Homo sapiens: one gene and its partners. The protein of the gene in region 1 purifies or fractionates together with the protein of each later gene. This does not show direct contact. Each region holds a gene or a part of one and is shown in the gene's direction. Other genes may lie near its edges.

What was found.
Region 2: the proteins of AMZ1 (region 1) and NCAPG2 purify together in Homo sapiens (affinity purification with mass spectrometry; one large-scale study listed by BioGRID and IntAct). This does not show direct contact.
Region 3: the proteins of AMZ1 (region 1) and FAM91A1 purify together in Homo sapiens (affinity purification with mass spectrometry; one large-scale study listed by BioGRID and IntAct). This does not show direct contact.
Region 4: the proteins of AMZ1 (region 1) and RGPD8 purify together in Homo sapiens (affinity purification with mass spectrometry; one large-scale study listed by BioGRID and IntAct). This does not show direct contact.
Region 5: the proteins of AMZ1 (region 1) and M1AP purify together in Homo sapiens (affinity purification with mass spectrometry; one large-scale study listed by BioGRID and IntAct). This does not show direct contact.
Region 6: the proteins of AMZ1 (region 1) and WASF3 purify together in Homo sapiens (affinity purification with mass spectrometry; one large-scale study listed by BioGRID and IntAct). This does not show direct contact.
Region 7: the proteins of AMZ1 (region 1) and TANGO6 purify together in Homo sapiens (affinity purification with mass spectrometry; one large-scale study listed by BioGRID and IntAct). This does not show direct contact.

The regions. Positions count from the first base shown.
Region 1 is NC_000007.14:2,705,202-2,708,701, forward strand, and holds part of AMZ1 (archaemetzincin-1), read left to right. Parts: intron 1-3,386; coding exon 3,387-3,500. UniProt on the Homo sapiens protein: Probable zinc metalloprotease.
Region 2 is NC_000007.14:158,698,305-158,701,804, reverse strand, and holds part of NCAPG2 (condensin-2 complex subunit G2), read left to right. Parts: intron 1-3,500. UniProt on the Homo sapiens protein: Regulatory subunit of the condensin-2 complex, a complex which establishes mitotic chromosome architecture and is involved in physical rigidity of the chromatid axis.
Region 3 is NC_000008.11:123,809,939-123,813,438, forward strand, and holds part of FAM91A1 (protein FAM91A1), read left to right. Parts: intron 1-343; coding exon 344-413; coding exon of another isoform or gene 414-452; exon of another isoform or gene 453-723; intron 724-2,580; coding exon 2,581-2,766; 3' UTR 2,767-3,500. UniProt on the Homo sapiens protein: As component of the WDR11 complex acts together with TBC1D23 to facilitate the golgin-mediated capture of vesicles generated using AP-1.
Region 4 is NC_000002.12:112,399,146-112,402,645, reverse strand, and holds part of RGPD8 (RANBP2-like and GRIP domain-containing protein 8), read left to right. Parts: intron 1-797; coding exon 798-979; intron 980-1,062; coding exon 1,063-1,238; intron 1,239-1,405; coding exon 1,406-1,529; intron 1,530-2,451; coding exon 2,452-2,610; intron 2,611-2,876; coding exon 2,877-3,014; intron 3,015-3,276; coding exon 3,277-3,423; intron 3,424-3,500.
Region 5 is NC_000002.12:74,638,331-74,641,830, reverse strand, and holds part of M1AP (meiosis 1 arrest protein), read left to right. Parts: intron 1-1,503; coding exon of another isoform or gene 1,504-1,555; coding exon 1,556-1,795; intron 1,796-3,500. UniProt on the Homo sapiens protein: Required for meiosis I progression during spermatogenesis.
Region 6 is NC_000013.11:26,564,183-26,567,682, forward strand, and holds part of WASF3 (actin-binding protein WASF3), read left to right. Parts: intron 1-3,500. UniProt on the Homo sapiens protein: Downstream effector molecules involved in the transmission of signals from tyrosine kinase receptors and small GTPases to the actin cytoskeleton. Plays a role in the regulation of cell morphology and cytoskeletal organization.
Region 7 is NC_000016.10:68,842,092-68,846,330, forward strand, and holds the start of TANGO6 (transport and Golgi organization protein 6 homolog), read left to right. Parts: upstream 1-1,439; 5' UTR 1,440-1,526; coding exon 1,527-1,620; intron 1,621-4,239.

The DNA.
Region 1 (3,500 bases):
CTGTGGGACAAAGACATGAAGCTTTTCTGGGTCATTCTGATGGTCCCCAGGGCTCCGCATCCCTCCCAGGGCAGGAAGCATGTCAGGGTCATCCTGCCCACTCCCCCACCCCAGAAACAGTCCAGCTTCATCTGTTTGAGCTCCAGTCCTCCCCGTTTTTCTCATTAGGTCTCTGCCTTGGTTATTGAGGTATAATTTAGATAGTAAAATTCATCCTTTTTAGTGTAAGGTTCTGAGTCTTGACACACGCATACATCACGTGGCCATCACCATAATCATATAGAGGGCGGCTCTCTACCCCTCTACCGGCCACCAAACCTTTCTCCTTAATCCACTCCTCCCCATCGTGGGTGTTGGAAGCAGCTGTTCTTTATCATTCACTCTGCCTGTCTGGCCATCTTTTGGCGGGAGGGTTGTCTAAATTCCCTAGGGTACTGTTACAGGGAGCAGCCACTGTTGAGATTTGGGGGTTGATAGGGGTCCCCTGGCTGGGGTGGGGTGCCATCCCCTGGGTGGCATGTTTCTTTGTCCTGGCCTGCTTTCTGGGTACAGCCTACACTCCACAGGCTTCCCCAGCCCCTGAGGTCCTACAGTGGGGTCTGGGGACAATGTGGCCTGCCTTGGCCCTGGCCCTAAAACACAGCCGGGGACCCCGTGCCTCTCAGGCTTGGCCTCTGCAGCCTCAGCTCTCCTCACCTCCCCCACGCCGTACACGGTGCGTCTCACCTGTTATGGCCTCTGACCTGTTGGTGCCAGGCCTGTGGCAGCTCAGAGACAGCACCAAGTCCCACAAGGGTCACTCCAGGGCTTTCCACCCCCTCTGCTTAGTGGACAAACTGCTGTTTTCCCCAGCCCCACACTTCAGAAGGTGCACGGGGGAGCCCTCGGGAAAAGGACATGCACTCGGGAAGGTTCAAAAGCAGGTGGAACTCAGAGGGTATGCCAGGTTGCATTTGTGGGGTCAGCTCAGCCTGGTTTTTAATTTTTTTTTAGAGATGGGGTCTTGCTTTGTGACCCAGGCTCAAGCGCAGTGGTGCGATCATAGCTCCCTGCAGCCTTGAACTCCTGGGCTCCTCTGCCTCAGCCTCCCAAGTAGCTGGGACCGCAGACACGTGCCATCACACCTGGCTAATTATTTTGATTGTTGTAGAGATGGGGTCCTGCCATCTTGCCCAGAGAGTAGCATGCTTTGGATCACTGTACTGGTTTCCTGGGACTGCCGTAACAAAGTACCACAAACTGAGTGGCTTAGGGACATTTCTTGTCTCACATCGCTGGAGCCTGCAGTTCTTAACCAAGGTTTTGGCAGGGCCACGTGGTCTCAGAAGGCTCCGTGGAGGGTGCTTCCTGGCTGCCTCCAGCTTCTGGAAGTTGCTGGCAATGCCCAGCCCTCTGTGGCTTCCAGATGCACAACTCCAACCTCAGCCTTTGACTTCCCGTGAGCTTTACGCCATGTGCCTCTGCGTCTCTTCTAAGACTCCAGTCACTGGGTCTCCTTCATGACCTCATCTTAACTGGATTACATCTGCACAGATCCTGTTTCCAAACAATGGCAGGTTCCGGGGGTTAGGACTTCCACCTGTCTTTTTGGGGGACATAGCCTGATCCACAACAATCATCACTGTCAATCATCATCACCTCATTAGCATCATTGTCAATCAATTACCCAGCTGCTCAGGAGGCCGAGGCAGGAAGATTGCTTGAGCCCAGGAGGTGGAGACTGCAGCGTGAGCTGTGATTGTACTCCAGCCTGGGTGACAGAATGGGATGTTATCTCAAAAACAAACACAGGGCCAGCTGTGGTGGGTCATGCCTGTAATCCCAGCACTTTGGGAGACCGAGGCAGACGGATCACGAGGGTAGGAGTTTGAGACCAGCTTGACTAACATGGTGAAATCTCCTTTCTACTAAAAATACAAAAATTAGCTGGGTGTGATGGCACGTGCCTGTAATCCCTGCTACTCAGGAAGCTGAGGCAGGAGAATGGCTTGAACCTGGGAGGCGGAGGTTACAGTGAACTGAGATAGATAGCGCCACTACACTGCAGCCTGGGCAACAAAGCAACACTCCATCTCAAAAAAAAAAAACAAAAAAACACACACACACAGAACAACCTCCTTGTCAATCTGTTCCTTTTAATGGTAGAACTCCTTGGAAAACACTTCTCCGGTGTGCCTCTGTGCCGCAACCCCTCTTCTCTACACTAACTCTGAGACCCTCTCCGGGTTTCCTGGGCCCGTGGTGGCTGCTCTGCCCCCTTCCCTCCCTGGGCTTCTGGTTTCCCGGCTTTGATGCCATCGTGCCCAGGTTCAGCCCCTGGGCCTCTCCTGTATCTGTCCACACTCATGCTCCGGGGAACCATGCTAACAAGTTACACAACTTGCTAGCTTGGATGACCCACTGTGATCTCACAGTGCTGTGGGTCAGGAGCGCCCCCACTGCCCAGGCTAAAGTCAAGGGTTGGCTCCAGGAAACTCCAGGGAGAATCCATTTCCTGCCCTTTCCAGCTTCTAGAGGCACCCGTATCCTTGGCTAATGGTCCTTCCTCCGAGCCAGCCCTGCAGTGCCCTCAGGCCTCACGTTCTCACCCAGACCCCCTGCTGCCTCTAACGAGGGCTTTTTTTTTTTTTTTTTTTTTTTGAGATGGAGTCTGGCTCTGTTGCCCAGGCTAGAGGGCAGTGGCGTGATGTCAGCTCATTGCCACCTCTACCTCCTGGGTTCAAGCAATTCTCCCGTCTCAGACTCCTGAGTAGTTGGGATTACAGGCACGCACCACCAGGCCCGGCTCATTTTGTATTTTTAGTAGAGATGGGGTTTTGTCATGTTGGCCAGGCTGGTCTCGAACTCCTGACCTCAGGTGATCTGCCCATCTTGGCCTCCCGAGTTGCTGGCATCACAGGTGTGAGCCACTGTGCCCGGCCTTACCGAGGGTTCTTGTGATGGCATCAGGCTCAGCTGGCTGCTGCAGAAAAACGCCTCCATCCCAAGATCTTTAATCATCTGCAGCCCCTTTGGCTGTGGGGACTCACAGGTCCCAGGGCTGAGACGTGGACTCTCTGGGGCTGTCGCTCAGCTGCTGAGGTGGCTTCTCCTTCCTGGGGCTGCAAGCGCCAGTCTTGTTGGCCCGGCTGCCTCTCCAGCGTCCCCACTGGGCTGTCCATGGCCTTTGACTTACCATGTCCTGATCTCCAAATGGCCCTGGCTGTCACTCCACATCATGCAGTACTGTGTGCCCTCAGGTCACACCAAACGCTGGTGGCCCACACCTGACTTGGGAAGGGGCAGGGCCCAGGCAGAGGAAGAGGATGACGGGGTGCCAGCCTGAGCCTGGAAGATGGGGGTCCCCGGCTGCCTCCTGACCCCATCCTCTGGCCCTCTCCCCGCAGACGGCATCCTGTCCTTCTTGAAGAACAACAAGCCAGGGGACGCGCTGTGTGTGCTGGGCCTCACACTGTCTGACCTGTACCCCCATGAGGCCTGGAGCTTCACCTTCAGCAAGT
Region 2 (3,500 bases), about 160 Mb from region 1:
GTTTTGTTGTGATTTTTGACTGTGAATATGAAATATGTTCTAAAGTCATTATGTCCCCAAAAGAAACATAGTTATCTCAGTGAATCCTTAGCGACCAATGTTTATTTGAAAGAAGAAAACAAAACCCTTTATACTCAAATCTACCTGCTGGTGGGCTACGCTAAGATGTAAAAGATAAACAGAAGTTAACCAGTCAAAGAGGGATGTTGGGGGAAAGGACCCATCTAACAAAGAAGGTCACTCTGAAGACTAGAGAAGGTTTGTTGTGTTTGAACTTGAAGTTCAGCAGGAAGGCAGAAGATGAGGCTGGGGGCTAGGCTACACGAGTCTTTACCATTTTAAGGAATTCAGACTTTATCTTGAGAACGGTGGGTGCTTGAAGCAGGGAGCGAGCTGTAGGCAAGGGAGGAAGAGAACAAAAGAGAAGGAGAGAGAACTAGTGGACAAAATAGAGGTAAGGAGAAAAATATGGTTTGCCTTTTGGAAATATTCCTCTGACTACAAGTGAGAAATATGTCAAAGGGACATATTTAAGGCTAACCTCTTAGGTTGTGCTCTTCAAAATGATGGTTGAATTAGGAACTGGAAATGGGAAGCTGCTTGGTAGTGAAGTGATGGCACTATTGGACTGATTGGATATGGATATGGTGGGGAAGGGCCCAGGCGTCTGACTGTGTAGTACCATTCAGCAAGCTCATGAACGTGGGAAGAGGGCAGATTCAAGGGAGAATGTGGCTCCATTTTGGAGGTACCAGATGACTGGTGGTGGGATGTGCACCAGCGGATGGCCAGTAGTCAGACATGCACGTCTGGATACCAGGGGAAAGGGCTGAGCTAGAGACAGGTTGGGCATGGAAGCCTAAGTCATGGGAATGCCTGCAGTTATCTCTGTAGAGTTTCAGATAAAAGGGCCTAGGACACATCTCTGAGGAAGCCAGCATTGGAGGCACTGACTCTGAAATACGAAAGTATCTTTGGGGCAGGAGACCCTTGGCACACTTGTCTCACTTGTTCTTATTATGTGGTGAAAATCAAATTAGTGACAAAGAATTAGAGGAATCTAATAATGAATTTGTTACTGGCAACATTTAAGAAATCATTTTTCTTTATAAGAGAAATGAGCTTATAACATGTTTTGGTATTATAAAATGATATCCTGTAAACTTAAAAATAATCGCAAACTCATAGGCATCTCATCACCATAGAAGTGTTTATAAGAGCAAATTAGTTAGATAATATATAAATGTCTGCTTTAGCAGTAGCAGTGTATATGGATTGTATTGGAAATGCAGTACATACATATTTTAAAGTCTAAAAGATTGTTGTTGCAAAGTGCATACCATAATGTTAACAAAATCACAGAAAACTAAATTGAAAATCAGAGGTAAAAATAGCAACTCAAAATCACACTGGTGGCCACAATGACAGGTGCCCTTCTGGGGTGCGTTGTTTCCAGCCACCCGTTGTGTGCCAACCAGCCTTTGCAGTGTTGCTGGAAAGCCAGCAGACATCTCAGGAGAATACTGAATTAGTCCTTATACTAATGAGGCATTAACTCTAGTTTATCAATAAGCTTTATTAACACTTAACAGTTCAGCTTAGTACCTAGTCACCGTGTGGCTCTTACGTGTAAAAATGAAAATGTGTAGGATTGTGCATCACGTGGTTTCATCAAGTTGAATGACAGAAATGCCATTTTATATAATAATGATGGTTTCCCATAGTTCAATTTGATAAGAATTTAAATCAGTTTGGGGCCTATCAGGTAGATCTTTCCAAGTACAGTTAGTTCTGCTGTAATCCCACACATGCATTACCAACAGTCACTGCACTCTGCAGAATTGGTTAAAATAAATAAATAAATAAATAAATAAATAACCCAGAGAGATTATGGGGAAAATGGAGTTAGAGGGACAACACTAAAAAATTTTGCCAGTGACATGTTAAAAACAGGAACCTAATAAAACAGTAGCATAATTTTATATGTTAAATCAGTAAGAAATGCATAAATACTATAGTAAGCATGGCACTTTACCTTGAAAAATATTTACATTCTATAGTTGGGAGTAGGTGCCTGTGCTCCCAAGGTACACCTGCCCCTCTGTGTGTAAGAGGAAGAAAATGAGGTAGAACAGAGGAGAAAAAGGCAAGCAAGGCAGAGGGGAATACAGAGCATTGGAGAGCACGGTGGGCCTGGGGAGGGTGCAGTGCAGTGGGGTTGGAGCCTTTGGGTCATAGCAGGTGAGGGGCACAATGTGTGGCCCAGGTATGAATGGACTGAGCTGGTAGGTGTCTGAGTTGTGTTTCATGGGATCCTGGTGGCTCCAGTCAGTGGGTGCAGTTTTCTGCATTCACCTGGTATTTCTTGCCTATGAAATCCCACATAAGCAAATGGGAATTTGCCTTTGGTCAAATTGTTCCTTGATGTATTGACAATGTTGGAACAAATTTTTATTTTCAAGCAAGTGTTCCAGAGTGGAGCTGATTATACTGTATGCCCTTGTCCTTCTTGGAGAATCAATGATGGGGAGGAGGACACAGCACTGAGGAGAATTCCATCATTTAACAAACATGTCCTAAGTGCCTTCTGTGTGCCAGACACTGCACTGAGAGTTGGGGTTATAGTACACACAAAGAAAAGTTTCTGCACAAATGGGGGTTTATGTTCTAGTGGTAGAGGAAGAAAAACAAGACACATAGAGAAATAATAAAGCAGGTGGAGGCTGGGCACAGTGACTCACCTCTGTAATTCCAGAGCTTTGGGAGGCTGAGGCAGGAGGATCGTTTGAGGCCAGGATAACACTGGCCTGGGCAACATAGTAAGACCCCGTCTCTACAGTAATGTTAAAAAATTGGCCTAGTGTAGTGGCTTGTGCCTGTGGTCCCAACTACTTGGGAGGCTGAGGCAGTAGAATTACTTGAGCCCAGGAGTTTGAGGCTACAGTGAGCTATGATTGTGCAACTGCACTCCAGCCTGGGTGACAAAGTGAGACCCTGTCTCAAAAAAAAAAAAAAAATACTACTACTACTGATAAAGCAAGTGGAAGTGGAAGTTGGGAACGATGGAGTGGCTAAAGAAAACCTCAGAGATGATATTTGAACAGAGTTGGTACAGTCACATGACTCTTGATGAGGATAGGTTCTGAGAAATGCATCATTAGGTCATTTCATTGTTGTGTGAACATCCTAAAGTGTGCTTACATACACCCAGATGGAGCAGCTCAGTACACACCTGGGCTAGATGGTACAGTCTACCGTCCTAGGCTACAAACCTGTGTGGCATGTTACTGTACTGAATACTGTAGGCACAGTGTTGTAACACAATGGTGTGTGTCTAAACATTGAAAAGGTACAGTAAAAATACAGTATAAAACATAAAAAATGGTACATCTGAATAGGGCACTTAGTGTAGCTGGAGCTGGCACAACTGGAAGTTGTTCTGGGTGAATAACTGAGTAGTGAGTAAATGTGAAGGCCTAATACGTCATTGTACACTACTG
Region 3 (3,500 bases), on another chromosome or scaffold:
TGTCATAGTTGTCATTCCTCAGAGTGCCTAAATCTTCATTTGAAAAGTTTTCTTTCATTTAACATTTATGTTTATAGTAGTTGAATTTTTTTAAAACAATAACTTTGATTTTAGTTACACGATGTATTTTATTTCAAAATGGACTTTTAATGCATGACTACTCCCTATTATTAAAACAAGCAAAAATTTCATTGATGAGAAACACTGAAATTGTTTTTTAAGATGTTTTGTGATTGGCCAGGATATATAGATGCATTTAAATTGCTAAAATTAAACTCTTATGAGAAACTCATTCTTGCCTTTATGTTTGTTTTAAACTGTTTCTCGCCTTTTTTTTTTTCAGCCTTCAAAACCTCTTACATTCCAGTAGAAAACTCTCTCTGCAAGTCCTTAACTTTGTTCACTCATTCCAGGTAACAAAAACCAAAAAGTCCAAATGGTACTTGTACTGAGCTTTAAGTATGCACAACACTTCTGTGTTTGTTTTTGAGTCACCACAGCAGCAAGATATGAAATAAACATTAATTTTATTGTACAAATGAAGACATTGAGATTCAAGAAGTTAATGGACTTGCACATTTCACTCGCCAGGTCTTCGGAGACCAAAGCTTGATCTCTTTGTTCTGTGCCAGTGCTTTATTCAACAGAAATGTGTTAAGTGTCTTTTATGGGCTGTGTGCCATGCTAGGTGTTAGTTTTTGGTTATAGCGCACTTCCCAATAACTAAAGCGATTCTCCACTGCTGGGATGGGCTGTCTGTTGTGGCAGCGAAGGCCAGTGCTCTGGACTTCTTGTTTTTCCCCCATCCCCAAGGAAAGAAAGAATATTCTAGACTTGATTTATAGGTAAACTTTTAAAATAGAATATTTCTGTTCAGAATATCTAATTCAACGTTATGAAATCAATATTTTGGAGTTTTACTTCATTCATTCAGTTGGTAAATGCTTGACCCTGACCTATGCCAGATTCTTTGCTGAGTGCTGTGGAAACAGTGATGTGTAAGATACTAATGGAACTTAGAGAATGTTGTGGGAGACAATAATCAGATAAATATTAAGATATATAAGTTCTAAAAGATTTTAAAAAGTACTTTGAAGAAGCCAACTATGATGAAATCTGCAGGTAGACCTAATTTCAATAGGTGCAGGATAATATAAGCTGAAGCCAAAAAGTTGGAAAAGAATATTCCGGCAGAGCTTAGGTCTGTACTTCCTGTGTCTGGGAAATGTCCAGTGAACAAAGAAACAAATGAAGCCCAGTGTGGCAGAAACTTCATGAAAGAGGGGTAGAAGCAAGAGGTAAGGTTGAAGAAGAGGGCCGGAGCACGGTGTGCAGGGCCTTCTGGCATATGTTAGAGAACTAGTATTTTACGTTGAGTGCAAAGAGAAATGATTAAAGACTTTTAAACAGGGGAGAGAGGTTATTTCTGAAGGACTATTTTATAAAAATAGGCAAAAATGGAAATTTTATAAGGATGCAATAAATGGAAAAATTTCAAAATTCTGTCAATACTGGCCTGTCTGTTGTGGCAGTGAAGGCCTTGGCCATAGTGAATTAATAAATTAAACTAATTTGGGATATATTTTGGAGATAGGTTGATAAAACTTGATGATGAATTAAATGTGAGGAAAAGATTAGGGCTGTGGAGGGAAGGGAGGGGAGGGATCATGAATGATTCTTATGTTTTTTGATTAGCTGGATGTGTGAAATAGAGAAGACTGGGGAGGAAGAGGGGAGGGAAAATTTGAGAGTTCAATGATGGGCATACTGAGTATAGAGTGCATGGGGAAGCATCTGAAATGAAGTGTCAGATAGGTGGATGTTTGAGCATGGAGTCCTGGGGGGAGGTCTGTGCGGAATATATGAATCTGAGAAGCGTGGAGTAGGTGGATTATTCTGGTGCTTAGTGTTTTGTAAGGTTTTTTTTGTTTGTTTGTTTTGTTTTTTCCCCGAGATGGAGTCTGGCTGTGTTGCCCAGGCTGGAGTGCAGTGGCACGATCTCGGCTCACTGCAACCTTTGCCTCCTGGGTTCAAGCCATTCTCCTGCCTCAGCCTCTTGAGTAACTGGTATCACAGGCATGTGCCACCACACCCAGCTAATTTTTTTGTATTTTTAGTAGGAAGAGGTTTCACCATGTTGGCCAGGCTCGTTTTGAACTCCTGATCTCAAGTGATTCACCCGCCTCAGCCTCCCAGAGTGCTGGGATTACAGGCGCACAAGCCACTGCACCTGGCCTTTGTAAGTTTTTTTTTTTTTTTAGAGATTTTTCTTCTGTTAGGTAATACTTTGGGGTTAGGTTAGGTCTTGTAAAAATGAACTTTTGCTTTTCCCACAGTCTCGTAGCCTCTTATTTCTATTTAAAAGGACTTACTACAGTTTAACGTTGTTAGTCATTTTTGCACATATTAATACCTGTCATTGATTGCTTTGGGCTCACAGTGTAGATCTTTGCATCTCCTGTACTGCTTTGCAATCCATAAACACTTCTCAGGTAATCAAGGTCTCTCTTTCTCATTAGTTATATTAAGTGGTTTTGGTAAAGTGTTGAATATCATTTCTCTTGTTTCTTGATCTTTTAGGAAGGTGCTTCAATATTGGATATTCACACAGAGCCCAGTTTTTCAAGTTTGCTTTCACAGTCATCGTGTGCTGACATGGGTGTTCCACTTCCTGCAAAAAACTTAATATTTAAAGATGGTGTCTTATCAGAATGGAGTGGACGGTCACCTTCCTCACTTCTTATTGCTAATCTCCATTTGCAATAATTTGGTTACACCATTTGTTGCTCACACTTTCTGCCTTTTTTCTTTCTTAACGTTAGCTTTATAGTGTCAGCCACTAAAAAGCATCCTGCTGCTGCAGTGCAATTCTTGCTTAACTAATATTAAAAGTTGGGGAACATATTCATGTTTTCTGAAGTTTTGCTCATTATTGCACATCTTATTGCGACAAAGTGCTTTTTAGCAGCCAGCACTGTATTTTTTACCTTGAGACAATCTGCATTTCTTTTATAAAACTAAGTATATACTTTATAGGCTTTATGATGACTGTTATGTTTATAAGCAGTCACTATGAAAATTGCAATGGTAATTTTATATGTTAGTTTATCAAACATAAATCTTGTTTAATTTTATATTTTGTTACCTATACTTTGGGGGATCAAGGGAAGAGATGGAACTCTTCCTCTGAAAAGGCTTCTTGGTACTTAAAGTAGTAAAACTATAAAACAATAAACATCCAGTATTGAGAGATGATATGATAGGGCATTATGAATTCCTATGGGTGTCTGTAAATTATGTATGTCAGTTGGACATTGTAGAAGGTATGTAAATCAGCATAGTTGTGTATAACTTAACCTTGATTTATAAGGTCTTAAGATTATGACTATTCATTGACATCTCATGAGAAGCTTTAGAAGACTTTCTATTTTTAAACACCATTTATATGTGGACTTCTGTTGTCACTGACTTTGGGCTTTATATTTTCATAGAGTCTTTAT
Region 4 (3,500 bases), on another chromosome or scaffold:
AGATACCTAAAAACAGAATTACTGAGACAAAGGACATGAACATCTTTAAGTCTTGCAAATTGCCAAAATGACAGAAAGATTATACCTCTTCATGCTTCCAGAAGCGCATAACCTTTTCTTTTCTTTTCTTTTCTTTTCTTTTCTTTTCTTGTTTTTGAGACAGAGTCTCGCTCTGTCACCCAGGCTGGAGCGCAGTGGCGCAATCTCGGCTGCCAGGTTCAAGCAATTGTCTTGCCTCGGCCTCCCAAGTAGCTGGGACTATAGGCATGTGACACCGTGCTCGGCTAATTTTTTGTATTTTTAGTAGAGACGGAGTTTCACCATGCTGGCCAGGCTGGTCTCGAACTCCTGACTGCGCATAACATTTTCAATATTGACTTTCTTGTAGAAAAACAGATTTCTTTACTGTACCGATGGATTAATATAGTGGTGTTCCATTGCTTTAATGACTTAAAGCAAAACCCATTGTTTTGGGGTTTCTTATTAGGTTAGGTGTTCTTTATTTGGCTTTTGTCAGTTGATTTTGGTTTATTGAGTTCTAGTCAGTGTCATTTTTTAAGATGGACTTAAACATTCTTCATCACTACTATTTTTATTAAAATTTCTAGAAATAATCAAGTGAGAATGCATTTAATAAGAACATGAGATTTTGCCTAACATAGAATTCCCTCCAGCTTTGATATAGAAAAGCAGTTATATAATTAAGATATATATAATGTGAATTGTTTATGTTGGCAAAACTAATGGCACAAAGAAAAATTTCAAACCCTTAAGCCAATTTTTAAATTTTATTTCAGGTGCTATTCGAGCACATAATGGTAGTCTTCAGCATCTTACTTGGCTTGGCTTACAGTGGAATTCATTGCCTGCTTTACCTGGAATCCGAAAATGGCTAAAACAGCTTTTCCATCGTTTGCCCCATGAAACCTCAAGGCTTGAAACAAATGCGCCTGAATCAATATGTATTTTAGATCTTGAAGTAAGCAAAGATTTTAACAAATTAAATATTCTGAATTTTGTTTAATTTTTTTTTCTAACTTAACTTTTCCTTAAATGAAACAGGTATTTCTCCTTGGAGTAGTATATACCAGCCACTTACAATTAAAGGAGAAATGTAATTCTCACCATAGCTCCTATCAGCCGTTATGCCTGCCCTTTCCTGTGTGTAAACAGCTTTGTACAGAAAGACAAAAATCTTGGTGGGATGCGGTTTGTACTCTGATTCACAGAAAAGCAGTGTAAGTAGTAAAACAAAAATATTGCTTTCACTTAGTGCGTAGGTTTTACCGGGGATTTAATCCTCGTGTGAAGATTTAATTTGTCATGTGACCCATTAACATATATGTATGTAAGCGCTGAACTGTGTATTTAGAAAGCAATTTTAGTAAATTGAACTATTTTTTAGACCTGGAAACTTGGCAAAATTGAGACTTCTAGTTCAGCATGAAATAAACACTCTAAGAGCCCAGGAAAAACATGGCCTTCAACCTGCTCTGCTTGTACATTGGGCAAAATACCTTCAGAAAACGGTGAGTTTTAAAGTATAAGCATTTTTAATGAACATTACCTTAATTTTTTAAAATCATGAACTTTTTATTGAAAGTTTTTTTGTTCTGAAAACAGCAGCTTGGTCATATTATGACAGATGTGTTTTTTATTGCTGCAAAATAGTTAATGTAGTTAAATATAAGCACTTAGAGGAGCAATGCCTGGCACACAGTGAATGTTACATATTAGCTGAGCTGTTACTGTTATTCCTTAATAATTAAGTTCTGATAATTATTCAGCCTGAAAATTAAAAAAAAAATTAGCACAAGGCTTTGTAGGTAAGACCATTATAGATCTTTCTAAATATTTAAGGTGTGTTTTGTGTCACCATTAGGTGTAGATGGTCAGCCTTTTGAACAAACTGACACTACAGAAGAGGCAGGTTTCAGCTATCTAAAAAGGACAACTGTTAAAAAGTAGTTTGGATTGCTACGTTAGAGTGGTATCATTAGAAGCATTTAAAAGTTGAGTGTAGAGGCCGGGTGCGGTGGCTCACACCTGTAATCCCAGCACGTTAGGAGGCCGAGGCGGGCAGATCACAAGGTCAGGAGGTCGAGATCATTCCTGGCTAACACGGTGAAACCCCGTCTCTGCTAAAAATACAAAAAAAAACTCTACTAAAACTACAAAATTAGCCAGACATGGTGGCAGGTGCCTGTAATCCCAGCTACTTGGGAAGCTGAGGCAGGAGAATTGCTTGAACCTGCACGGCAGAGGTTGCAGTGAGTTCACTGGTATTAAGGTGGTTTAGTTATTACAGTATTTGGAAGTTGAACAAATGACTATTGAGGTACCATTTGGTTTTGACTTGAAATTTTAGCCAGTTCTTACAACTTGTAAATGAACTTTAGATCTAATCATGCGTGTTCCTTAAAGTTGTGTGCTTTTAACTTTCTTTTTTAGGGCAGCGGTCTTAATTCTTTTTATGGTCAACTAGAATACATAGGGAGAAGTGTTCATTATTGGAAGAAAGTTTTGCCATTGTTGAAGATAATAAAGAAGAACAGTATTCCTGAACCTATTGATCCTCTGTTTAAACATTTTCATAGTGTAGACATTCAGGTAACAGAGTTCCTTTATGAATTTATTGGAGATGGGAATTTCCAGTTTATAAACAAAGACGTGGAGCTATAAACTGCTTAAATTAATTGCCTTGTTATTTAACGGTAATCTTGTTTTCTAAATTCACTAGCTCTCACAGATAAGATATGACAGAGAAGAGTAATGAGATGTTTGTCTCTTAAGATCATATAAAATCTTTGGAAAATCATTTGGGTTTTATATTCTGAGTATAAACAATTTGACTAAAAACTATTCTATGTGTTTAGGCATCAGAAATTGTTGAATATGAAGAAGACGCACACATAACTTTTGCTATATTGGATGCAGTAAATGGAAATATAGAAGATGCTGTGACTGCTTTTGAATCTATAAAAAGTGTTGTTTCTTATTGGAATCTTGCACTGGTAAGTAGATGCAGTACTTGAGCTAAAAGTTGTATTTATTTATTTATTATTTTTTTTAAAAGACGGGGTTTCTCTGTTGGCCAGGCTAGAGTGCAGTGGCACAATCTTGGCTCACTGCAACCTCTGCTTCCCAGGCTCAAGCGATTCTTGTGCCTCAGCTCCCGAGTTGCTGGGATTACAGGCATGAGCCACCATGCGTGGCCAAGCTGAAAGTTTTTTGTTTTAAAAAGCTAATGATTTCATGAAAGCACTATTTGTATAGATTTTTCACAGGAAGGCAGAAGACATTGAAAATGATGCCCTTTCTCCTGAAGAACAAGAAGAATGCAGAAATTATCTGACAAAGACCAGGGACTACCTAATAAAGATTATAGATGACGGTGATTCAAATCTTTCAGTGGTCAAGAAAGTAAGTAGCAGGTTGTTGTATGTACGTTCTTACTGATAACCCACTGGTCAGTGTTTTTGCGTTGGTCTTATATTTTG
Region 5 (3,500 bases), on another chromosome or scaffold:
CCTGTTATATATGTTCTTCTGTTCTTAAAATAATTTGTTTAAGATTGAAATTCTTGGCTGGGCGCGGTGGCTCACACCTGTAATCCCAGCACTTCAGGAGGCCGAGGCAGGTGGATCACTTGAGCCCAGGAGTTTGAGACCATCTTGGGCAACATGGCAAGACCCCATCTCTACAAAAAAAAAAAAAAAGATTGAAATTCTTGGTCTTTGCATGTTTGATGGAGCTCATCAGTGAAATCATCTGACCCTCTTACTTGTGGGAAGATATTTGATTACCAATTACATTTCCTTAATGATTATAGACTATTTAGGTTTCTAAAATTTCTTTAGTATTGGTTAGATACATTTTTCTAGGAATTTGTCCACTTTATCAAACTTATTAGCATAAAGCTATTCATTATGTCCTCCTATAACCCTTTTCACGTTTGAGCATTTGTGATGATGTCCCTTTCTCATTCCTTATATTGGTTCTTTGTTCTCAATTGTTCTCACTTCCTAATCTGAGTCCTGGGGATAAGTATAAGTAGCCAGTAGAGAAAGAAGGCAGGAGTATTGGAGGCAGAGAAGCAGCATGAGCAAATGCACTAAAGTGAATATATTTGGTATTGTTTCCGTGAAAATCTTGAGGCGAAGAACAATTTCTAATGAGGCTAACAATTAAGTAATGACAGGTCTTAAAGACAGTTTAAATTTTACCTTATAAGAGATTCAGACAACCAAAGAATTTTAACCAAGGAGAAATGTAGTCATATTTTCATTTTTAAGAATTATTCGTTAGGTACTAAACACACATATGCTAGGCATTGATGAATAATATCAACAAGACAGGTTCTCTACCCTTGGGAAGCTTACAATATAGTGGGAGAGGCAGTCATAGAAACAAATTGTAATAGAGTGCAATAAATGCCAATAAAGAAACAAAGTTTATGAGGGCAGATAGCTTACTTTGAGACAGAAGCTTGAGTTTTTTGGTGTAACTTTTGATTAGTTCCACTCAGCATCTCTAAGCATTCTCAGGCTTACATGATAGGCAAACATCTAGATCTCTTGGGAGCTGTTAAAATAGGATGGCCTGGGCCAGGTACGGTGGCTCACGCCTGTAATTCCAGCACTTTGGGAGGCCAAGGCGGGCGGATCGTGAGGTCAAGAGATCAAGACCATCCTGGCCAACATGGTGAAACCCCATCTCTAAAAATACAAAAATTAGCTGGGCGTGGTGGTGTGCACCTGTAGTCCTAGCTACTCGGGAAGCTGAAGCAGGAGAATCGCTTGAACCTGGGAGACAGAGGTTGCAGTGAGCCAAGATCGCACCACTGCGCTCCAGCCTGGTGACATACCGAGACTCTGTCTCAAAAAAAAAAAAAAAATAGGATGGCCTGGACAAGCTTTAGTACCCAATCTGACTCCTTTCTGGATTTGTTTCCCTCGACTTGTATTTTATATTTCAACAGAGCACACATAATTCAGTTTGAAAACCAGTGGTTTCTCTTTCCTTCCCTATAGGTGTAAAGAATATCCAGCTGGTGGCTACAGTTCCCCCTCTGGTTTTGCTGCCATGCATCCTGGGCGAACTACTGGTAAAGGGCCCTCTACTCACACTCAGATTGACCAGCAACCTCCACGGCTTCTCATTGTGCACATTGCTCTACCGTCCTGGGCTGACATCTGCACCAACCTCTGTGAGGCTCTGCAGAACTTCTTCTCTCTAGCCTGCAGCTTGATGGGCCCCAGCCGCATGTCCCTGTTCAGTTTATACATGGTACAAGATCAGCATGAGTGCATCCTCCCTTTTGTGGTAAGTATATCTATATTTATTCATTTTACCCTGAAAGCAAATACAGTGGTAAGGTTTCTGGAATAGAGATCACAGTTATTAATACTTATAACAATAACCGCACTACTTCTCCACACACAGTAGCCCCCGAGTAACACCATGAGAGCCAGAGGGCATCCTGCATATATAGGGGTGTGTACTGTTGAAGAGAAAATCCAAAATTATTAATCTGGGAGTATAAATAGGCTACAAGCTCCACTCCAGAGAGAGGGAGAGAAACCTTGGCATTGACAGATGTTTGAAATGTAAACAACTGACTCCTTTTATGCCCTTTGAAATGTAAACACACAAGGAGGGAAGCCTCTAAATCTCTTCTGAGGTCTCTGACTATTCAATCATCTTTTAACTTCCAAGACTTGCCCTTTAACCCAGGTACCAGTTTTCTTTGCTCAGAAAGCCCTAACTATGCAAAAACATGAAAATATTTTTTCTACATTCCACATAGACTCAGGTGAAACTGCCCCCTAGGGTTATGGAAGGCAATGGCTGGGCCAGGGGCAGTGTCTTTACAAAGCTCCTTCATACATAAACAATTATCTATGCTCCTCCTCAAAATTTCAATCTTCCCTTTCTCCCTTGTATAAAATTCAGAATCATAGTGAAGAGAAAGACTTCCAGAGGTTCTATGCATCTCCTTCCTTGAGGTAGCCTTGCTGCTAATATACGTTATCAAATGGATATAAGTCTTATTTAAGATTTCCAAAAGAGGAAATTTCATAAATCCATTGCTGAATTATGAATGTAATATATGACTGAAATCTATTTTTTTATTAATGCCTTAGTTTCCCTCATTGGAAGTGGAAAGATAACATCTCTGTTGATACTATAAAGAATGAAAATAATATATATTACTTCATGCTTCTTGAGTTAGAACATACCCTGGTTGCTTTGACAGAACCTTAGGCTTATAACAACTCATGGTTTATTTCTTGACAAAAGTCACACAGGGAAAGTTTTGAGTATAAATGCTCCAGTGCTAAGTATGGGGATTTTGTCTGTGCATTGTTACTTAGGCTGGGTTGGGGATGGGAAAAGGATAAAATTATTTAAGAAATTCAACTGATCCTTTCTACAGTTTGAGCAGAATTTGGTACCTCTATTCATTGTTTATTGCTGTGTAACAAATTATCCCAAAATGTAGTGGTCTAAATTAATAAACATCATCTCATAGTTACTATGAGTTAGGAATTCATAAGTGGCTTAGGTAGATCAGGCTTGGGGTCCCTCATGAGATTGTAGCCAAGATGTCAGTCATCTGAAAGCTTGATTGAGGCTGGAGGATCCAGTTGCAAGATGGCGTATTCACTTAGCTGTTGGCAGAAATTCTTGTTTCCTGACCACTTGGATCTCTCCAAAGGGCTGCTTGAATGTCCTTAATTTGTGGCAGCGGGCTTCTCCCAGAACGACTGATCCAAAAGAGAGAGAGAGCAATGAAGAAGCCAAAATACCTTTTATGTCTTAGTCTCAAAAGTAACATGTTGTCACTTCCTCCACATTCTGTTCATTGGAAGCAAGTCACTGTTCCACCCTAGATAGAATAACAGCAAGCTGATTTACCCTCTTGCCTCAAACAATAAAAAAAAACTGGATAAAACCTATGAAAAACACTTTTCAAAACACTGGACATCACGCAGCAAAGAACAAAGCCCCCTGGGTGATAGGAAGT
Region 6 (3,500 bases), on another chromosome or scaffold:
AGCTTATATTCAAGTGAGGTAAAACAGGATAGATTATCTTGCTAACTAGTTCACAAACTCCTTGTTGGCAGGAACCACATAGGGTGGTGCCTTGTATATAATCTGTGCATAGCATATGTGTGTTCCAGCTTGTCAGATAACCTCTTGAACGTCGTCGTCATATAGAGACCTTCATTTAGGTTTTGCACTTATTTCACTGTGGTAACACTTGGTGCCTTCTCCCACTGGCTGTCCTCTCACAGCCTTTGTGATCTTTGATCTTGGAATGCTTGTTTTCTAGCAGTTGAAAGCTGAATTGAATTTTTAAAAGTTCCTCTAGTGCATGCTGAAGATTTTATTAGCTTGCTGCGGCAGTTCCATTTTAGTTCCTCTCATAGCATCCTCTCATTGAGAGCTGTTATCCATTTTGTGCTCTTGAGAAGCTCCGTGAAATTATATTGCAGTACCAAAGTATAGGTGTGATTAACTGTGAACTGGAATCAGTGTGGCCATTATTTTATCAGCTAAATGGATGAAGTGGTTCATTCTTGGCACGTAGTAGATACTCAACAAGTATTTTTACATTGACTGAAAATGTTATGTGTTTTGATTCATGGTTATATAATAAGCAGGACTTGATCACTACTGGGTAGTTTACACAGTATGGTCTGAGCCATGTTGCTCTACTACCATCACTTATTTTCCAACTTCTCAAAATATGTACATGACAAGGTTGTGGTTTTTTTTTTTTTTTTTTTTTTTGCCTGTTTTGTTACATAGTCCTGTGTTAGGATATTACCTAGGCAGGTTTCAGCTCTGAGTTGGCTTTGCAGCTCTTTGCTGGGGCATAGTCTATCCTAATGTTAGAATTAATGTTTGGTAGACACAGGGTCTCACTCTGTTGCCCAGACTGTAGGCCGTGGTGCTATCTCGGCTTGAAACCGGGAGGTGGTGGCTGCAGTGAGGTGAGATCACACCACTGTACTCCAGCCTGGGCAAAAGAGTGAGACTCGGTCTCAGAAAGAAAAAAAAAAAAAAGAATTAATGTTTATAGAAGGGCTCATGAATTTCAAAACTTGCTTCCTGTGGTACACGGGAGAAACTCTAGTACAAGTTGAGGGGTGCCATTAACCAGAAAGATGGTAAAGAGAGAGGGGGCAACTTACAAGTATGTTTATATTGTTCTGAGAGAGGTTGTGGCTGTTGCACAGCTTAGAATGGGAAGGAAGAGACTGACTTTACATGCCTTCAAAAGTAAGATCTTAACTTTGGCAGAAATACTATAATTTTCCAATATAGAACACGTCTGTTTTCAATATAAATGTAAAAACACATTTAAAAAAAACCAGCCCTGTAGGATTTAAAACGTATCTCCATTCTTGGTTTTCTGTAGTATTTGTCATATATTGTTTAGAGTTAATCATCCTGGCTTTTGATCAGAAACCCAGAAATACACAGTAACCCCCTAATTCCCCAAACACCTGTCTTGAGATTTTAATTCTTGCTGCAAACAGCATTTGTTTCCCAAGGCTTCTCTAGAATGTGAATTGTTCTTTGAGATATCCCAGGGAGGAAGATTATTAAAAGGTTACTCCTTTTCAAAAGTTGGCATTGCAATTTAGAATGGTTACAAAGTTTATCAATGAAAATGAACTTGATGCCTGAGCTATAATTGAAATCTTTATAGCGTCTCTGCTGTTTGTCCATTGTGTTACAGAGCATTCATTGAAAACTTCTTCCATTTCTGACATGTCCAGTTCCCACCCCTCAAAAAAAAATTATGAAAACTACAAAACTTCAGAACATCATTTGAAATAATTGTGTAGGGATTAGGCACCGAAGAGTTTAGAACAGCTGCGTTACATTAAGCTATAATTATGGTTACTTTTTCTTGCCACACAGGAGTTTAGAAATTTGTGGTTTTATTTCTTAGGCTATTTTGTTTCTGATGATTGTCAAATTTCATTTGAGACAATATTGCCCTGCATTTTAATATTTACTTAGCATTTTTTCTCTTTTTGAACAGTTACATAACTTAGATAAACTGTGTGTAAATGAAAGTTACAGATAGAGTTTTAAGTGGAATATGTACTTTATTCAGATTTTTATTATTTGAGATGATGATTTATTGAACATAAGCAATGGAGACTTTTCTCTCATCTGTCATTAAATGAATGTCTGGATTAGCTTATAGGAAGTGCTCACAGTAATAAAGCTAAATATAAAGAATGAGAATCAAGAATATATAAAGACCAGAAATGAATACATCAAAACCTGTACTATCAATAAAGTTCTAGTCTCCGTGGTCAGTGTCTTAGACATGAGGACTGCTTTAATAACTGCAAGATTTCAGTGACTCAGAGCAAGAAGCATCTGTTTCTCACCTATGTGGAAGCTTATGTTGGGGTCGTCATGGGTTAGGTGTCCACATGGCTGTTCAGGTGGTCAGCCTTTTTCCACCTTGTGACTTAGCCTCCTATAGGAACTGGGAACCTGCTTGGTTCAGGCAGTGGGTGGAGAATGAGGACAGTCCTGTGGGAGGTTTTTATAGACCAGCACACATTGCTTCTCATCCTACTAGCCGTACTCAGACATGGCCTCTCTTAGCTTACTTTAGGCTGGACACATAGCAGAGCTATACGCCGCAGGAGAAGAGAGGTCATGGGGACTGGTAGCATAACTAGTCTCTACCCCAGTCTGACTGGAACTTGTGTGAGCATCCTGGTGGCCACAGTGAAAGGAAATCATCCTCAGCTCTATGCTGTCATTTTCACCATGCATAAAGAAGATACCAGTTTCTTTTCCTTAATATGTCCCCCATTTCACACTTGGGGCTTTGAATTGGTTACATTGAAAGGTGTAGTAGGTGATGTGCTCAGTGGCATTCATGTGGTACATTGAACAGTGGTTCTTGTTTGGCTGTTTATCATGTCCTTAAATAAAGTGAAAGTACAACAATCAAAAACAATTCTGTGGAGGATCAAACTGACATGGTTTATTATATATTTTCTAGTTGTGAGAATAAGCACACTTCATATCCCTCAAACAGTCATTCAGGAATATAAGTGATCTCAGGTGGATTTTTTGGTGAAAGATGTATAGAAGATAGTTTGAAGTTACTGTTACAGATGCGCTTGGAGTGCCAGTATTTTGTCAATTAAAGGTGGCTTTAGAGACCGAGAGAGATGGTTGGTTAGTTCAAAATCAGTATCCTGCATGGCAAGCTTGTTCTAGATCAGGGGTTGGTAAACTACAGCCTGTGGGCCACATCTGGCTCTTTGCCTGATTTTGCAAGGAAAATTGTATTGGAATACAGACGTGTTTGTTCTTTTATTTGTCTGGGGTTGCTTTAGTGCTGCAAGGCAGAGCTGATATAGGGGTAAGTGGTGGCAACAGAGGCTAACTTACACAGTACGACATATTTGCTATCTGGCTCTTTACAGTAAAAATTCCTGACCCTTGTTTTGGAGAACATATTTTCTGCCTTTTCTGATGGGGCTCACATTGTAGTAGGTGAGAAA
Region 7 (4,239 bases), on another chromosome or scaffold:
GGCCAGGAGTTTGAGACAAGTCTGGGCAACATAGAGACTCCATCTCTAAAAAAAAATTTTTAGCGTTTTTCCCTCTCAGGCCCTGCATTCCAAAATGACAAAGAAAAGAAGAAACAAGAGTCATGCCAAAAAGGGTAATAGCTATGCGCAGCTTATTCTCGCCCAAGGACCGGACCATTAAGAAGTTTGTCCTTTGGGCCGGGCGCAGTGGCTCACGCCTGTAATCCCAGCACTTTGGGAGGCCCAGGTGGGCAGGTCACTTGAGGTGAGGAGCTCAAGACCAGCCTAGCCAAGAGGGCGAAACCTTGTCTCCACAAAAAATACAAAAATTAGCCGGGCATGCTGGGGCACTCCAGTAATCCCAGCTACTCGGGGGGCTGAGGCCAGATAATTGTTTCAGCCTGGGAGGCAGAGGTTGCAGTGAGCCGAGATCACGCCACTGAACTCCAGCCTAGGCGACAGAGCGAGACCCCATCTCAAAAAATAAAATAAAAATAAAGGTCCTGCCCTCAAAAACATTGTCCTGTGTCTGCGGCATGACTTTCAGACAACATGGTTTTTCAACGTCCCACCAGGATTTATGTAGGTGAAAACCTGTTTCCGATAATCTGAATCTCAAATCCATTCTGTTTTACATATAAAAACAGTTTGGCGGAGGGCATGGTTTTGATAGACCCTGAATTTTCGAGGAATGCATCAACCATGAAAACAGAACACAGATCGAACTTTTACTGGGAACTTTACTAAGTTCACTGAAAAAAAAAATCATATTACCCATAACAACATTTGTAGCTTTACATTCACGATGGATATATATGCGTGTGTACGTCTGTACTTAGGTTTTGTTTGTTTGTTTGTTTTGAGATGGAGTCTCGCTCTGTCGCCCAGGCTGGAGTGCAGTGGTGTGATCTCGGCTCACTGCAACCTCGACCTCCCAGCTTCGAGCGATTCTCCTGCCTCAGCCTCCCGGGTAGCTGGGACTACAGGCGCCCGCCACCACGCCTGGCTAATTTTTGTATGTTTAGTAGAGACGGGGTTTCACCATATCGGACAGGTTGGTCTCAAACTCCTGACCTTGTGATCTGCCCGCCTCGGCCTCCCAGAGTGCTGCGATTACAGGTGTGAGCCACCGCGCCCAGCCTGAATATTGTTTTTCTTATCCATACTTCACTGTAAGCAGATGGAAGCATCTGTCTGCTTCATTATGTCTGCCAGTGTTGAGTACCTGAGTATTTTCATATTGAAATATAGCTTTAATGATACATTACTTCTCTCTTCCTTCTTTACATAGCGGTTAATCATATTGAGCTTCTGAAATTGTGCGCGTGGGCAGATTAGCCATTTTTGGGTTCCCTCTTACCCCCCGGACTAAGCCGGGACGGAAAAAAAATGTGAAGGGGGCGTTCCCGATCGATTTGGCCCCGCCCCATAGTGTGCCCAGAGCCTTCTGCCACACTTAACATGGCGGCGGCGGCGCCCTGCCGAGGCGCCTGAGCGGGTCGCGAGCGTGGTGTTACACTCCAGTCATGGCGGCCCGACAGGCCGTGGGCAGCGGGGCTCAGGAGACATGCGGTCTGGATCGGATTTTGGAGGCATTGAAGCTGCTGCTGAGCCCGGGAGGTGAGAGGACGCATCTCCGCGCCGGGCTGGACCCGGGACTCTCAGGGCCGCCCGGCTTCCGGGGCTGCCCTGCCTTCCGCAGCGTGCGCCCCTTAGGCCCGCCTCGGGACCCTCCGCCCGCTGCTGGGGGCTTTGAGCATTGTCTATGCCCGTCCTCATTACGTTCTTGAGGAAACTGAGGCTCAAGGAGGGCGCGGGATCCGTTGACTGCTGATATTAGCCAACATCTCTTGAGCATTTGCCTTGTGCTGGGCTCTGTCAGGCGGGGCCGTTATTTCATTCAGTGCTTACTGCAGCGCTCTTGGGAGGGGGATATGGACCCAGCTCCAGAGAGGGTAGGGCGCCCGCGACGTAGAAATGTGAGGTCCTAGCCGCGTGAGGGCGCAGGGGCCAGCATGGACCCTTGAGATTTGTACGAAATGCCAAGAAGTCCAGACATCGGAAGCAGTGACGTTTGAAATGGGTTTGGGGAGAGTATTTAGGGGTTACCAGGCGCTTTTAATCTTTGTGGTGCGTGGACAGTTTCTTCCCAGTCTAAAATCTGAAGGGATATTGGGAGTGGTTGAAGCTGCTACTCCTTTTGCGACTGAGGACACCCAAGGCTCACTGAAGAAATTAAGTAACCTGTCCAAGATCACGTGGTCAAATTAGGGGCAGAACACGGACCTAGGCCCGAGATCTACTGAACCCCCTTCTCAGAATCAGACAAATTGTTCAGTATAGGGGCTCTGATGTTATCTGGAGCTTTTGGAAAGGACGTGGAAGATAGAGCTCTGCTTATCACTGGGGTGTATATTTGGGGGAAGGGATGGGAAGGGATCTGTAGAATTAGCAAGGGCACATGAAAGGCCAAAGGGGATCACCTCCCAGTCTCAGATTTTATACTTAAAACTGCAAAAACTTCTGCAAACATTACACCACACCAGCGGGAAGTGAACACAAGTTACTAATATTAGTAAATGAGTGCCTACTAAGTATCAGTCCCCATAGTAGGCTGTTGACATACACATCATTTAATCCTCATTACGATCCCCTGGGATCGGTACTACTTGTATTCAATTTTTACGGATGAAGGACCAAGGTTCAGGTACATTGGAAATTGCCCAATGTCAGACTAGTAAGTGGCAGAATTTGAATTTAGGTTATTTCCACTAAAAGTATGGTAAATATGCTACATTGTCTCAATTAAGAGTCAGACTGCAAAATAGAATTTTAAGTTGCTAATCGAGAGGTCACTTGTCTTCTAACGGCAACTCTTTTTTTTTTTTTTTTTTGAGATGAGGTCTCACTCTGTTGCCCAGGCTGGAGTGCAGTGGCACAATCTCGGCTCACTGCAACCTCTGCCTCCCAGGTTCAAGCGATTCTCCTGCTTCAGCCTCCCGAGTAGCTGGGATTACAGGTGCACACCACCATGCCCAGCTAATTTTTGTCTTTTTAGTAGAGACGGAGTTTTGCCATGTTGGCCAGGCTGGTCTCGAACTCCTGACCTCAAGTGATCTGCCTGCCTTGGCCTCCCAAAGTGCTGGGATTACAGGCCTGAGCCACTACACCTGGCCTGCAACTCTCTATTGTATGACTGAGAACACGTTTAAATAAGCAAAAATCCTGAAAGTAATCATCTGTTATGAAACATGTATATTATGCTTCATTTATAGAAGACTCTCTAATCTCTATGAGTATGTGGTGGAGTACACATATATGTACTCATTTAATTTACAGAAATTCAAGCATTCCTATTTGAAGAGGAATTAGTTCGTGAAATTATATTATTTTGTACATGTAGTCTTATATATTATATGAATCTGTCTACTATTTTATCATATTAGCTGCTTAGGGAATTTAAAAATATCTGTAGTGGCTGGGCGAGGTGGGCCATACCTGTAATCCCAGCACTTTGGGAGGCTGAGGCAGGATCCCAGGAGTTTGAGACCAGACTGGGCAACATAGTGATACTCTGTGTCTACAAAAAACTAAAAAATTGGCCAGGCATGGTACTACACACCTGTGGTCCCAGCTACTGGGGAGGCTGAGATGGGAGGATTGCTTGAGCCTGAGAGGTCCAAGTCTAGGCTGTGGTGAACCATGATTACACTAGTGTGCTCCGGCCTTGGGTGACAGAGTAAGACCCTATTTTGTTTTTTGTTTTTTGTTTTTTTTTTGAGACAGAGTTTCACTCCATCACCCAGGCTGGAGTGCAGTGGCATGATCTTGACACACCGGAACCCCCACCTCCCGGGTTCGAGCAATTCTCATGCCTCAGCCTCCCTTGTAGCTGGGACTATAGGCACCCACCACCATGCCTGGCTAATTTTTGTACTTTTATTATTTTTTGAGATGGAATTTCGCTCTTGTTGCCCAGGCTGGAGTGCAGTGGCGCAATCTCAGCTCACTGCAACCTCCACCTCCCAGGTTCAAGTGATTCTTCTACCTCAGCCTCCCGAGTAGCTGGGATTACAGGCATGCGCCACATGCCCGGCTAATTTTTTGTACTTTTAATAGAGACGGCGTTTCACCATGTTGGCCAGGCGAGTCTCGAACTCCTGACCTCAGGTGATCTGCCTGCCTTGACCTCCCAGAGTACTAGGATTAGGATTACAGGCGCGAGCCACCATGCCCAAC